4 linked regions of the Homo sapiens genome follow. The protein of the gene in region 3 purifies or fractionates together with the protein of the main gene of each other region. This does not show direct contact. Each region holds a gene or a part of one and is shown on either strand. Other genes may lie near its edges.

Evidence for each region. Proteins that work in one complex are often made in the same cells at the same time.
Region 1: the proteins of MATN2 (region 3) and MAP2K3 purify together in Homo sapiens (affinity purification with mass spectrometry, with the first as the bait; one large-scale study listed by BioGRID). This does not show direct contact.
Region 2: the proteins of MATN2 (region 3) and HPR purify together in Homo sapiens (affinity purification with mass spectrometry; one large-scale study listed by BioGRID and IntAct). This does not show direct contact.
Region 4: the proteins of MATN2 (region 3) and HPX purify together in Homo sapiens (affinity purification with mass spectrometry; one large-scale study listed by BioGRID and IntAct). This does not show direct contact.

The regions. Positions count from the first base shown.
Region 1 is NC_000017.11:21,294,711-21,298,210, reverse strand, and holds part of MAP2K3 (dual specificity mitogen-activated protein kinase kinase 3), read right to left. Parts: intron 2,537-3,500; exon of another isoform or gene 2,442-2,536; intron 2,126-2,441; exon of another isoform or gene 2,001-2,125; intron 1-2,000. UniProt on the Homo sapiens protein: Dual specificity kinase. Is activated by cytokines and environmental stress in vivo. Catalyzes the concomitant phosphorylation of a threonine and a tyrosine residue in the MAP kinase p38.
Region 2 is NC_000016.10:72,069,726-72,073,225, reverse strand, and holds part of HPR (haptoglobin-related protein isoform 1 precursor), read right to left. Parts: intron 1-3,500. UniProt on the Homo sapiens protein: Primate-specific plasma protein associated with apolipoprotein L-I (apoL-I)-containing high-density lipoprotein (HDL).
Region 3 is NC_000008.11:98,033,064-98,037,224, reverse strand, and holds the end of MATN2 (matrilin-2 isoform a precursor), read right to left. Parts: coding exon 4,049-4,161; intron 3,665-4,048; coding exon 3,566-3,664; intron 1,569-3,565; coding exon 1,513-1,568; 3' UTR 501-1,512; downstream 1-500.
Region 4 is NC_000011.10:6,438,188-6,442,214, reverse strand, and holds the start of HPX (hemopexin precursor), read left to right. Parts: upstream 1-1,227; 5' UTR 1,228-1,251; coding exon 1,252-1,334; intron 1,335-1,484; coding exon 1,485-1,543; intron 1,544-1,676; coding exon 1,677-1,748; intron 1,749-1,928; coding exon 1,929-2,050; intron 2,051-3,705; coding exon 3,706-3,859; intron 3,860-4,027. UniProt on the Homo sapiens protein: Binds heme and transports it to the liver for breakdown and iron recovery, after which the free hemopexin returns to the circulation.

The DNA.
Region 1 (3,500 bases), on a different chromosome or scaffold from region 3:
CAGACCCAGGCCTGGAGGCTGGACTCCAGGGCCTTATCTCAGCCCTGCCCACTGGGCACATCTTGAGTACCTCCCTGGGCCTCAGTTTCCCCATCTGTGAGGTGTCCTCACTGCCCTGCCTGACTAGTCAATGGGATGTGGGGTGAGAAGGGGCCCAGCGGGGGTCCAGCCAGCACCTGCAGCAGCCACTGTACAGGGGCTTCATTAGCTGCAGGTAGCAGGATGGGGCTCATACTGCATCCAAGATGAGGAAGGCCAGGCCCCCAGAAAGGGCAACAGGCGGTGGAGCAGGCGGGGACTCCAGCCCGGGCTGCCCTCCAGGCTAGCTCTGCTGGGCCCTGCTCACCCTGGAGGCCGACACCCGATGCCCGTTTCTCTCCCTCCCCTGAAAAGCGCTGGCTCTCTCCCCTCCCCTGCACCAGGCAGGCCAGAGTCCCGGGGCAGTACCTTCCTCACTCCACCCCTAGGGACAGGCGAGAGGCCCCAGTGTCCACACCTCTCAGGCTGGCTACAAGAGCCTGGCCAGGTGCACAGCACTCAGCTGGTACTAACGGAGGGTCAGCATTTCTGGGGCTCCAGGCACAGTGGGGCTGGCATGCAGAGAGAGCTCCCTGTAGTCAGGGCCGCCCTTTGAATAAGGCATAGCCGCCATTCCACAGGCAGGAGAAGCAAGGATCAGAGATGCCAGGGTCACCTGGTGCTCTGGCACCATCAGGCAGCAGGGCTGGGAGTGACACGGCTCCCGGAGACCACCCAGTACAGACATGCTGGCCACATGCCTGCCCTTGTGGGAGCTTCTGCCTCATCATTTCCCAAGCATGATCCTGCCACATCTTGGCCCTCACCCACCACCCGCCACTCCCTGCTGCTGGCTCACCCTGGCTGCTGGTACTGGGGCTTAGAAACTGCCCATGGCCCTGCTGCCGCCTGCCAAGAAGACCCCAGTCTCTGAAGCCGCCTCCAAGCCAGGTTCAGATCCAGCCTTGGCCACGGTGCAACACAGACTTGTGGCCCCATCTCAGAGCCACGCACCGGGGCCCAGCAGCCAACCCAGCCCAGATGGAGGGCGAAGGGTGGTTACCGCTACTGGGAAGACAAGGCCAGAACAACAGGAAACAGAATAGCCTTGGCAGGGACAGGGGTCCCAGGGTCCATCCTGGGGCAGGTGGGCAGAGTGCAGGAGCCAGGCAAGCAGATACCTGCAGCCTTTCCACCAAAGCCACCCCGGGGACCCCGCTGCCAGGCCCCAGAGGCTTCAGGAAACAACAGCGTCCACAGACAGAAGCAGCAGCAGCAGCAGCAGCAGCAGCTGCCGCCACATGCACTGGGTGCCTGCCTGCTAACTGCTCACCCCATGAATCAATCGCCTAGTCACTACTCCTGTGCGCAGCGTTTTTATCTCATTTTAAGATGCAGCAACACCCTGGCTGTCAGGGACCGCATGGGTCTCACTGCGAGTCTGTCACAGCCACAGCACCGGCCACAGGCAGGGCCCTTCTCATCTGTGACTCCAGATACTCCCACAGCCCTACAGGGAGGGGCTCCCAACCTCACTTTACTTGGGGAACAGGCTCAGAGAGGTGAAGCCACTTGCCCCAGGCTGCACAGCAAGTCAGGGGTCTGGCCAGGAGTCACTCCTGAGTTTATTGACTCGCAGACCCCAACAGGCCAGGCCATGGCTCACAGCACCCCTGCCACAGGGAGCCCTCCCTGAGGCGGAAGGAGGGGCCCAAGTCTCGTGCTCAACAAGAAACGGCAACAGAGTCTGGAGATGCAGAGGCTCAGCACATTCTAACAGGAAAAACCATGGCACACAGGGCCAGCAGCTTCTGAGGCCACTTCTATCCTGCCTCTGGGCCAAAGTCTCTGAACTTCTGAGGCTCTGGGCTTGGAGTGGCGCAGCCGTGGTAAACTCCAGCTCTGCGACCCTGGCATGGTGCCCTCCTCTGCACCTTGGGTTCCTCATGTACAAAACAGCTCGAGGCAGAAATGCCACCCACCTGCCCCGCACAGTGCTGCAGGACGAAGCAAGATCACGTCTGCAAGGTGCTCAGCACAGGGTTCACTGCGCAGATGGGGACCTGTTGTGGCCCATAAATGGTCACCATGGATATGACCAGCCTCTCTGCAGAGGTGAAAAAAAAAACTGCCCTAAGTAATGAGAATTATAGGTAGCTTTTATTCCTGATGTCAGGCTTTTCGTAACCAGAATATAAAATATTTTCTGTTAAAAATTAAAGCTCTGCACAGAGACCCTGGGCCTTGACCTTGCCCCCAGCCCCTTGAGTCCCACCCTTTCCCTGTGGGGTCCACGCCACACCCTCCCTGCACTCTCTCTGCTCTTGGTCCCTCTGGCCCCAGCCTGCCACCCACCTCATGCCTTGGGATTTGGGAATGTTGTATCATGTGGCCCCCCCTTCACCAAGCCTCAGTTTCCCCACCTGTCAAGGGCACTTGCACATATGGGCTGGATGGGTGGGGACCACGCTCCTCGCAGGCCTGGGTGGTATATGGACTGGCCTCTGCATCCACCGGCCTGTTGGGGACACCAAGCCTGCATCAGGAGGGCCACAGGCTCCATGGGGAAGCCACCCAGCTGTCAGAGGGAGTGGGTGAGGCCGTCATGGAGACAGCCTAGAAACAGGCCTCAGGCTGCTGCAGACGTCAGAGCTGGGCCCAGATGGCCAGGCAGCCCAGGGCTGCCCAGGTGCAGCCGTTGTGGCAACCATCACCACAACAAACAGAGGCTCTCGGCGGCCACTGGCAACCCACGATAAGCCCGCCTGTCCCGGCTCTCAGCACGGGGTGTCCTGGGGTGTCCTCCACATACTCCAGCCTCATAGCAGCCCCCAGGCAGGGGCAAGGAAACTGAAACTGACCAGAATTCAGCCACTGACCTGAGGCTACACCACAGGTAAAGAGAGGCACCCCCAGACTAGAACACAACTCTCACTGGCCGTGGCAGCTCTGCCCTATCTCCTCCCACTCACCCCCAACTAGAGCCCCCGACCCTTGAGTGAGCCCTTCTCTGAATGAGACACCTGCTTTCCCACCGCAGGGCCTTCACACATGCCCTTCCCTCTGCCTGAAATGCTCTTCCCTGTGACTGTCCTAGCTACTACGTCGTCTTGCCTTTCACCAGTTCAGAGAGGCTGCCTGACTGCGCAGGCCCCAGTGACCGGCTCTCCCTGTGGCCTGATGGCTTCTCTGCTGTGGAGTCCCACAGGTGGCCGTTCTGCAGTTACCATCTCAGAGAGCCAGTCAGCAGGTCACCTGTGAGCACTCACTCTGGAGCCAAGGCCTGGGCTCAACTGCAACTCTGCCCCTTCCTAGCTGTGTGCCCTCAGGCAAGTGGCTTCACCTCTCTGGACATATGTAAAGTGGAGATTACAGACAAACCTCCCCGGGTTATCAGCGTCATGCCATAGCAGTGCCTGGCGCGTGGAGATTAGATGGGGCCATCTGGAAGTGCACAGCTCCCAAGAGAACACCACCCTCAG
Region 2 (3,500 bases), on a different chromosome or scaffold from region 3:
TTTTTATGTCTAACGCAGCTTGTCCCTGCTACTGTATCCTGACTCCATTGGCTAGAGTTGGACCGTACAATCTAAGCTGAACCCGGTTGGCTAACTTGAAAAGTGCAGGAATGTGATTACACTGCTGGGAAGGCAGGAAGATCAGTTTTGCCGGGAGAAGCCATTGTGATGGGAGGGGTAATTCACAGAGTGGGTAGCAGATGTGGAATGTGGGCTCTATAGATAACGACTGGCGGGAAGGTTGTTTACCAGCGCAGGGAGAACACAGAGAGTAAGGAAGTCTGGCCTTGAAAGCAGGGAGCAAAGAACAAGGAAACTTAAGCAAGCTGAACCTTTGAAGAAGAATTTCTTACTGTATTTAACAATCCCCCTGTTAAATATTTTACAGTATTTTTTCTTTAAACCCTTTTAACATAATTTGGCTCTGTTATTCTACTTGGGTCTTCTAAAAGAAAAAGCTCACTGGAACGAGGAGGAGGAGGATTGAGGGAGGTTTTGGGGAGAGCTGTTTCAATGAGCTTTTGTATTAATCCTAGGGCACAGGGTATGACACAGCATCCTACAAGAATAAGCAACCCTATTCTGATGGCAAGAGACATGAGGATTGAGGACATAAATCCCTTCCATTTGCCAAAGAATTTCCCATTAAATTTGTGAAGGGGTCGTTTAGTCCAGAATTTTTGGCTAGCTCATTTGATAAGGCAGTAAGACCTTGTAGTGCTTTTGGTGTGATCCCACCTGGAGTAGTATTATTAGGGATAAAAGTATAGCATCGGGTTCCGATAATGACACAATCTCCACCCTCTTTCGCTGGTATCATGTCTAATGCTATTTTATTTTCCCAGGCCATTTGACTGGTGGGTCTTAATTGTTCAGCTGTCCCTTTAAGAGCATCTCTAGTATAATTAACAAATCATAGGCTGGGCACAGTGGCTGATGCCTGTAATCCCAGCACTTTGGGAGGCCGAGGCAGGCAGATAACCTGAGGTCGGGAGTTTGAGACCAGCCTGACCATCATGGAGAAACCCTGTCTCTACTAAAAATACAAAATTAGCCAGGCGTGGTGGCACATGTTTATAATCCCAGCTACTCGGGAGGCCGAGGCAGAAGAATTGCTTGGACCCAGGAGGCAGAAGTTGTGGTGAGCCGAGATCATGCCATTGCATTCCAGCCTGGGCAACAAGAGCAAAACTCCGTCAAAAAAAAAAAAATCATCATTGGTTGTAATAAATGTAGTTTATCTAATTCACATTTTTATTTATAGTTAACCACCAGAAGAACGTGGATTCAAATCCTGCAGTTGTCTGATTTTGGGCCTTAAATTCATCTGGCACTCCTCGTTGGACTCCAGTGGAATCTATATAAATGTGGGAGTCAACAGACCCATGAGGGGCCTCTCTTGTTTTACAGTGTTTGGTTTCTGTCTTTTCTGGTTGATGAAATGCCAGGGTGAAAGGGATAGCCAATGGAATTAGAGTGCATGTTCTGCTCCAGTTACTCGGCAGTGTCCAGTAATGGTCCACCACAATACCACCATACATCCGCTCGAGGATGACTAAGGGCAGACTGATGGGTAAGCTCTTGGAAGGACTTAAGCTCACTGCATCCCATTAAGGCTCCAAGGAACACCAAGTTTTCTCCCTGTTGTGAGAGACACAAAGTAAAATTGGCATTGGGAAACGGAAGCTGATGGCCCTCGGGGGCTGACCCTCAGGGTGTTGAGCTTCAGGGAACAGCAGAGAAAGAGCTTGACATGATTTGTCACCCCAGGCTGTGTGATCTTGGAAGAGAACTACCATACAGCTTATGCCCGGTCAGTTAGAAGACCATCTGAGTGGAAAGGGGACAATCTGGGCCTCTGGTCTACCGTGAGCACAAGCATAACATTCATATTTGTTTAAAGTGCAGATGGAATATTTAATCCATTTTAGCCAAGCATTTGCATCTTGACATCCTGTCTCTAGGGCTATAGTCTGCTTTAAATTTTTTACCTTTACAACCGTTACTTTAGTTGGGTTGTTTTGGAGATGGGAGGAGGACGCTGAGCTCGCTATACTTGGAGAGAGTGTTAGATTCCACTCGTTTCCCAGACTCTGGGTGTGGATTTTTTTTTAATTATCATTGTTAACCAGTGGTTGAAGATTTTTATGGGATTTTGTTTTGTAACATTTGCTCCTAATCCATACTGTTTGAATATAGTGGGTTCTTGGGCCATTGTTTGGGGGTTAGCTATAATTAGCAATGAGGGGTTACACTGCAGTGGCTTACAGTTTGGTGGGGTGGGACCATGAATTAGTTGGAGTTTCTGTTTTAGTCCCCATAACTTATTTGAAAAAGGGGGCCTGGCTGTCCACCCTCCATACTGAGTGGTTTCCAAACATCTGTCCAGTCACCACAGGGACTTTTTAAGGTTCTATACTTATACTTGGTTGACTTTTTATGGTATGGACATAGGTACTTATCTACATGAGACAGCTTCCTTTGAGCTTGCTTGTCTCCACACAGGATGACTGAACAAGCATCAAACTGAAGGATTAAAGGATGGTTAGCCCAAGTTACATTGATGACAAGATGACCTTCTGTTGGAAAGAAAAGAAAAAATAAACAAGTGATTATTAAGCCCTTTTTAGAGTTAATTTGGTTGGGGTGAGCCCTGGAGTGACGGTTTATGATCCTGGAGGTGGCAGCGCCTTTTTGACGCGGGTGTGATCAGTCCATCCTCATTCTGCTGTTCGGACTGCAGTCTTAGTATTTAGGAGCACCAAGTAGGGTCCTTCCCAAGCTGGTTTGAGTTTGCCTTCCTTCCACCCTTTTATGAGGACATGGTCTCCAGGCTGACGCTAATGTGCTGGAAACTCCAGCGGTGGCGCCTGTGCTAGGAGACCTTTAGTCTTAAGGGAAGAGAAAGTAGAGTATGGACCAAGTATATAATTTTTGAGGAACTGATCTTTTATTTTGAATGTAGGAATGTTAGCAGTGGAGTATAAATAGGGCAATCCATAGAGCATCTCATAAGGGGAAAGGCCAGTATCTCTCTGAGGAGCAGTTCGGATTCTTAACAAGGCAATAGGAAGACATTTAGTCCATGGCAATCAAGTTTCTAGAACTAATTTAGTTAAGTGGCTTTTTAGAGTCTGATTCATCCTTTCTACTCTTCTTGAGGAGGAGAGATGCCAAGGGATATGGTTTTTCCATTTTATGTCTAGTACCTGGGCTAACTTTTTAATGACATATGCAGTGAAATGGGTTCCATTGTCTGAATCAGTGCTTTGTATTAGTCCAAATCTGGGTACAATGTTTTCAATTAATGCCTTAACTACGTTACTGGTGGTTGCATTTGAGTGTGGGATAGTCTCTACCCAGTAGGTAAAGTGGTCTATTATTACTAATAAGTATTTTAAATGACCAATTGGGGGCATTTCAGTATAATTAATTGAACACTTGGAAATGGTCTTAGCCCTGAATCTCTTTCTCCAAGGGGCGGTTTTCTTAGAATCTGC
Region 3 (4,161 bases):
CTCAGAATGACGTTTGGTCAGTGATGGACTGCATATACAACAGTGATCCCATAAGATTATAATAAGGCTGAAAAATTCCTTTTCTGTGTTTAGATACAACACTTACCATTGTTTTACAGTTGTCTACCGTATTCAGTAACATGATGTACAGGTTTGTAGTCTAGGAGCAATGGGGTATATAACAAACAGCCTCGGTGTGTAGTGGGGTACCCATCTAGGTTTTTCTTTTCATTTTTTTTTTTGAGACGGAGTCTCGCTCTGTCCCCAGGCTGGAGTGCAGTGGCCCGATCTTGGCTCACTGCAAGCTCCGCCTCCCGGGTTCATGCCATTCTCCTGCCTCAACCTCCTGAGTAACTGGGACTACAGGCACCCACTACCACACCCGGCTAATTTTTTGTATTTTTAGTAGAGACGGGGTTTCACCGTGACATTTTTTATTTTGTTTTTTTAATTTTCAGGAATGGTATGCTAAACATTTTGTCATTCTTTTTAAAGTCATCTTTGTTTTGAGTTTGACCATTTATTTGTATAGATGTAGCACATTCCTGTACATGCGGTGTTGTATTTCTGTGGTATGGATTACACCAGAGTTTATCAGTTCCCCTTCTGATGATGTTTAAGTTGTTCCTTATTTTTTGCTTTTACAAAGCCTAGTAACATTCTTATGCAGGTCTCTTTGTATGTATGGGCTGAAATCAACTGAGTGCAGTTGCTAGATTTACAGGGTTGTGTGCATTTTCAGTTTTATGAGATGTCAACAGACTTACTCTACAAAGAGTGCCATTTGCATTCTTACTACAAGAACCTCACATTTCCACATCCTTACCAACACTTGTTAAAAAATATACTCATTTTTGCTAAGCTGATGGGTGAAAAATGGTATTGTTTTAACCTGCATTTTCCTGATTACTGATGAGATTCAGCATTTTTTTCATAGGCATGTTGGCCATTTCTCATACATACATATCTTCCATTTAAAGTTAAACTAAGAATTTTTGCACTGAATACCATTCTCTGAAGTGGTGAATTTTAATATTGTATAAAAAATCCAACTTGTTCCACAAGTACATATGTCCTATGATTTTATGCATACATCCATATACATATATCAAGGTAAAGTCCAGTACAAAAAAACAGCATTTCCTATGGCCAGTGTTCTACAGAAGTAAGACTGTGCAAACTTTATCGTATAGTCAAATGAGATTGCACACTAAGGCAGGATGAGGCAGAAGCAAGTTGTGTCCACAGTATATTACAAAATACCTTGCATAGCTTATTCATTCTCACCTGGTAAATTCATCTTAGAATTCTGAAGGATTTTTTTCCTAGATAAATTTATACAAGTTAGTGTATACTTCTTGTCTTTGTTCTGTGGCAAACCAGGTTTCTCAGTACTGATTGTTTTACTTCACAACATTATTGATTTAACAATAGCCTGAGCTTTGGGGCTCTGCACTGCGTTCATTGTAATCCGTGATACAATGACTACAAATGTGTCGCGATTTCTAATCTTCATCTGTATCTCAGGCGATTTTCCAGGGCTTCCATTCTCTGTGTCATTTCTTCTAGTAAATCTCAAATTAAGGAAGATGAAGAATTGTCTATTTTTATTTACATTTAAATATAACTTGATTTATCCACGTAAAATTTTGGCTTCTGAAATCTAAAAGGTTTTGGTTTTTTTTCCCATTTCTGTCAAGTATGTTAAAACCCTGACTTGTAAATTTGTAGAACTCATTTAACATATTCTGTCAAGACAAATATTTTGGGTTTTTTTTTTTTTAACATCAGCAAAGCCAGATGGCTCAGTGTGAATTTGTCTTTTTAATTTTAATTTTATTTATTTTTGTTTTTTTTCTCTTTTTTTGAGACAGAGTTTCGCTCTTGTTGCCCAGGTTGGAGTGCAATGGCGCGATCTTGGCTCACTGCAACCTCCGCCTCCTGGGTTCAAGCGATTCTCCTGCCTCAGCCTCCCGAGTAGCTGGGATTACAGGCATGCGCCACCACGCCCAGCTAATTTTGTATTTTTAGTAGAGGTGGGGTTTCTCCATGTTGGCCAGGCTGGTCTCGAACTCCCCACCTCAGGTGATCTGCCTGCCTCGGCCTCCCAAAGTGCTGGGATTACAGACGTGAGCCACCGTGCCCGGCCTTATTTTATTTATTATTTTTTAAGAGACAAGGCCTCAGTATGTTGCCCAGGCTGATCTCGAACTCCTAAGCTCAAGCAAGGCCACCTCGGCCTCCCAAAGTGCTAGGATTACAGGTGTGAGCCACAGCACCCAGCTGCAGTCTTTTTTTTTTTTTTTTTAATTGTGATTCCACTTCCACCCTTAATGCTTGCAAATTAGTTTGCCATAGCACACTTCTAGGAGCCAGAATTGATAATGTTGGGAATCTGGTGAAGAGAAGACAATGAAAGAATTCGGCCTTGGAAAGTAAGATATGAAGTCAGAAGCAAAGGGCGATACGGAGTTTTCACCATGATGCTACATAAGGCCACGGTTTTGAGGAATTCTGACCTATGTAAAAATATGTCTTCTTTAGTCTCTTGTGAGTAGAACTTTGGGGTGGGACAGGCAAGCGAGAAGAAAAGGGCATTAGAATAGGTATTGGTCTTCCCTGTAAGCTCCTCAGTACCCTCTATCTGCCCTCTTGAGGGCAGAATGAGAGCCCATATTCGTCAATTAACCACTCAGAAAGATTATTTCATTTTACTTAAGGGAGCGTATTTCCAGCTTTCAGAAATGGAATTGCCCTATGCTGTTGTTCCTTATTACATAAGCCCATTGGCACAGAGATAGTTCAGAATTAAGCCATTTCCCTATAGACTAGTTGATGCACTTGAGATATCAGCCAGCTTTAGTACGCTTACTGTAATTTTAAGTTTAGAGCACTTGGCAGGGTGTTCAATATGTAAAAGCACCGAATCCTCTTTTCTTTATTATCCCCAAGCATTCCTTTTATTTAATATTGTTTAAATGAATCATTGGATCCTGCTGTTCCCTTGGTGGAGTGTTTCATTTTTTAGAGTGCCGATAGAGAAGATCTCTGCTGCCAAGGGAAAAAAAAGAAAAAACCACTCCTGTCCTCCAGAAACTAAACACACTGAATCTATATGTGGCTGTGGTGTTCCTTGGGGCTAAAGGAAAAGTTTGGAGTACTGAGTTTGAAACCTCTTCATTCTACAACATTCTTTGTCTATACTTACCGTACCTTTGATGCACTTCAGACCTCATCATGTCCTACACACCTTCCTAGCAGAGACGGAGTTAGGCCAGTGTCTCTTTTTTCCTTACTTTGTATGCTGACTGACAGGCCTTATTGCTAAGCCCCCGAGAACAGCCGATGGCAACTAAGTGCTTGACTGCTGCTAATAAGCTTGGCTTGCCCTTGCCTCTCAAACACCTGTGAGGCTGCTTTTTAAAGCAAAAAGCCTTTCCTGGAGATCACTGTTCTTTGTGACTTCGTGGGATTTACTTCAGTTGATAAAACCTACATAGAGTGTGTGAAGTTTTGATAATATTCTTTGCATTCCATACAGAAGCATAATGCAAGAAAAGGATATAGCGCTGTGTTAATTTTCTTACTTCTTCGTTTGCAAGGTTCTGGAACATTATAAGGTTTTCACATTTGCATTGATCGTGTTTTTCTTCCAAAGGGCTTCCTGAGAAAGCAGATGGAAAGTGTTCACCTCTAGAATCCACCAGACTTCCCAGACGCATAATAATAGGAATGAATCAGCATATGGAGGAAACCATAATGAAAGACATGTTCCACTTTTTCCATGCAGCCAGATCCAGTAAATACCAGGAAAGCACTGTATATGCTTCCAACACTGGAAGTGGCCCTTACTGTGGATTACTGAGGAACACTACTTGAGTTTCTTTTAGTTTATGTTTTAGTTCTCATTTTACTTAAATTCTTTCTTCTCTTTTCCTCTATACTATTTCCTACTTCCTTCTTTCCTTTCCTCCTTAAAGCTAAGGTTGTTGGCAAGCCGAAAGGCTGAGATCAAGTTATCTTATAGTAATATTTTACTTGGAATTACCTGAAGGTTTTGTTGAATGGGAAAGCTTTTGTGTAGACCGTAAAAGATTGTCTTCTTCAAACAGATATCTGTGTTGCACTGCAAAATTAGAACAGGAAAGTAGGTCTTGGATA
Region 4 (4,027 bases), on a different chromosome or scaffold from region 3:
TAAAGGGCGTCTGTGACTCCTAGATCTCATTATGCCTACTACCATAACCTACCCCCAATTCCTAATATTCTCCTACCCTAGAGGGGGGGAAATTGTCAGAAATTTGGCTGCAACACTAGCAACACTACTCAGTACTTGAAATGCATTTTTGCATTTTTTTCATTCAACAAATATTTCTGGAACAACTCTTATATGCCAGGCACTATTTTAGGAGTCAGGGATATATAATGGTAAACAAGACAGGCAAAACAAAGCAAAGCAACAACAACCATCACCAGATAAGTAGACAGATGAAAGAATTTCAAGTTTTAGTAAGTAAAATAAAACAAGCAAGGGTCTGAAATGGCTAGATAAGGTGGTCAAGAAAGGCTTCATTGAGAAGGTAGCATTTAAGCAGGAGTCAGCTAGAAATATTGTGAAATTCCAGTTACAGTTCTATTTGTTCTGGGTTGGTTAAATAAAGCTTTTTCCCCCAAGGTGGAAACTACCAAGAAAGACTAATTACTAGTAGTGGTGGTGCTCTCTGGAAGAGAGACACCTCCTGTTTCTGCCTCATTACTGTCAACCCTTCACTTCCAGGCACTTTTTGCAAAGCCCTTTGCCAGTCAGGGAAGGCGAGAGGCTGGGCATGGGGCTTGGACATTTGACAACAGTGAGACATTATTGTCCCCAGACTCACTAGCCCAAGGGTAAAGCTGAAGAGGCTTGGGCATGCCCCAGAAAGGCCCCTGATGAAGCTTGGAAAAAGCTGTTCTCTGAGTATTTCTAAGTAAGTTTATCTGTGTGTGTGGTTACTAAAAGTAGTAAGTATTGCTGTCTCTAGCTGCCTTAGAGCAGGGCTTGACACAGTACACAGCAATATTAGTTCCCTCCTTTTCTCACCTCCCCCATTGTGGAGATAAACTCAATCACAAAAGGTGATCCTCAGTCTACTCACTTCCCTGACTTATGGATGCCTGGACCCATTGCCAGTGTGAGAGTCACAGCTGGACGTCAGCAGTGTAGCCCAGTTACTGCTTGAAAATTGCTGAAGGGGGTTGGGGGGCAGCTGCCGGGAAAAAGGAGTCTTGGATTCAGATTTCTGTCCAGACCCTGACCTTATTTGCAGTGATGTAATCAGCCAATATTGGCTTAGTCCTGGGAGACAGCACATTCCCAGTAGAGTTGGAGGTGGGGGTGGTGCTGCTGCCAACTCTATATAGGGAGTTCAACTGGTCACCCAGAGCTGTCCTGTGGCCTCTGCAGCTCAGCATGGCTAGGGTACTGGGAGCACCCGTTGCACTGGGGTTGTGGAGCCTATGCTGGTCTCTGGCCATTGCCACCCCTCTTCCTCCGTGAGTAAAGCTGGGACTAGAAGCGAAGGATTGAGTTCTGGGCTAGGGTAAGGTAGGGCCAGTTTTTAGGCCTCGGTCAAATTTGGGGTCAGGGGCTATGGGAAAGGGATCGGTCCCAATGGATCAAGATATCTATTTTGTTCTCCCTAGGACTAGTGCCCATGGGAATGTTGCTGAAGGCGAGACCAAGCCAGACCCAGACGTGACTGGTGAGGCCCTGACTCCCTAAGTCTGTCTTATCTGTCTGGTTGTGTCTCTGCATTTTATCACCTTCTGGTTTTTTTTTTTTTTTTTTTTTTTTTTTTTTTTTTTTACTTTGCCATCTCCCTACCTCCACCCCAGAACGCTGCTCAGATGGCTGGAGCTTTGATGCTACCACCCTGGATGACAATGGAACCATGCTGTTTTTTAAAGGTAGGAGGGACTGAGGTTAGGGCGTTTAGGACCTTAGACTTACTCTCCTTCACAAAGGGTGTCCCTGTCTGTGGGAGGTCTTAGGAATTATCTGATGGTATCACTGACAGCTTCTCTCAAGCTATCTCAGTAGGTCAAAGGTTTCTCACTGGGCCCCTCAGTGAGTGTGGGTTTTTTCAGGGGAGTTTGTGTGGAAGAGTCACAAATGGGACCGGGAGTTAATCTCAGAGAGATGGAAGAATTTCCCCAGCCCTGTGGATGCTGCATTCCGTCAAGGTCACAACAGTGTCTTTCTGATCAAGGTACTGCTGGGCCAAAATCAGGGCCAGGCTGGAAAGGGCTGGAATCGACACTGGGGACCCTTCCCCCAAATGGCCTTGGCATGGAGCCCATAGCAATAGGTAGCAGATTTCTTTCCCATGTGCCCTCCTTTCCTGTAAAAGCTTGGGCTAAGGGAGTGTGCATGCGTGTGGGCCTGGCAGGTGCACCATCCAGTGGCTGTTCTTCAGTCCTAGTCTTAGTTCTACACCGCTCTGCTGTACCTCACACTGCTGGCCATCCTTTTTTTCTCTGGCAATTGCTTCCCTTGCCTTCCATGACCCTGTATCAAGTCCTCTTCATAGGGCAAGGCAAGTTGTTCCCAACACAATGGCACCTGGCTAGAAGAGCATGTGGAGCATGAAATCCAGTCTGCTGTGCTCACCAAGTCCCATGTGACCCAGGCTGTGTCTGCTCAGAGGAAGGGGTGCCTTTTCCTACCTTGCCAAAGGTGCTGTGTGGTTGGGGAAGTCCTGACTGTCGGCTTTGTTTTCCCTCCTGCCTCTTTTCTCTCTCTTCTCAAATGTCTCATTCTATCTCAACCAGTTCCCTAATGTTCCTTGGGGATCCATCCTAGCCTTTCCATATACCTTCCCTCAGTGATCTCAACCATCACCTTGGCTCTGAGGAATATCTATGCTGTGGACACTGGATCTAGATCTACTTTCTGAGCTCCAGACATCTCTTTCCAATTGTATGTTCTACAGGCACCTAAAATTCAGCATCCCCCAAACTAAGCTTTGCATCTTCTTTACAAACCAACCTTTCCTCCTGTGTTTCCTGTTTCAGTAAATGACCCCAAAATGTGCCTGATTACTACAAACCAAGTGCACACAGGGTCTCATGATCTGGGCCTTGGTTATCTTCTCAGGTTTATCTCCTCCCCTGCCACATTCACTGTGTGCCAGCCATACGAATCTACATGAGGTTGGAGCACACTGCTTCCTCATGTTTGGGCTCTGCATGCTGCTCCCTCTGCTGGTAACACCCTTTCCTCACTTGTCAACCTGGAAAATTCCTGCTGATTTTTCAGCTCTTGGGCCCAATGCTTCCTCTTTGGTGTGAAACCTTCCACAACTTCTCTAGGCAGACTTAGGCACTCTGTCTATATTCTCAGTGCACTCTTTACACTACACCTTGGTAGTTGCATGGCTAGGATTGCAGGAGTCCTTTCTGCTTTTGTACAGTGAACTTCCTGAAGTGAAAGACAGAGTCTTGTTATCCTCAGTGCCTCTCACAATGCCTGGCATATAGTAGTTATTCAGTGACTGTTTCTTGGATGAATGAATGAATGAATAAATAAATGAAGAAATGAATGAAGAAATAACGTATGGGTGATTGCAGGATGAACAGTTGTGGATATGTTTGTCAACACTGATAGTGTTGCAGATAAATGTGCCACAGGAGTGTCTGGGTACAGAGCTAGAGGCATGTGTGTTATAGTAATAGTGACTGGATTTGCACAAACTGAGAGTGTGTAATGTGCAAAAGGACAGCACATTGTTGTCCACAGATGGACTGAGAATGTGTAGGGCCACAGGAGGATATCGTATAAGCACAGTAGATAAAAAATGTGTGTAAATGCAGAGTGGCAGTATCTGGGGATGCACAGTCAAAAAGAGAGTACTTTTGAATGCAGGGGGACAAAGTCTGGGTATACCCTCCTGAAAAGAAGGAGAAAGGATACCCAAAGTTGCTCCAAGATGAATTTCCTGGAATCCCATCCCCACTGGATGCAGCTGTGGAATGTCACCGTGGAGAATGTCAAGCTGAAGGCGTCCTCTTCTTCCAAGGTCAGTCCAGGCTGGAATCCAAGAACCTGGAGTAGTGGTGGGTTGGTAGTGATGCCAGTAGTGATGGTGATAGTGGTAGTGATGGTGGTGGTGGAGCCACTATGTGGCTTTTTAAGGAAGGGAAATAGAGAAGCCACGTATGGTCTAGAGGTCACGTGAGGGAAGGAG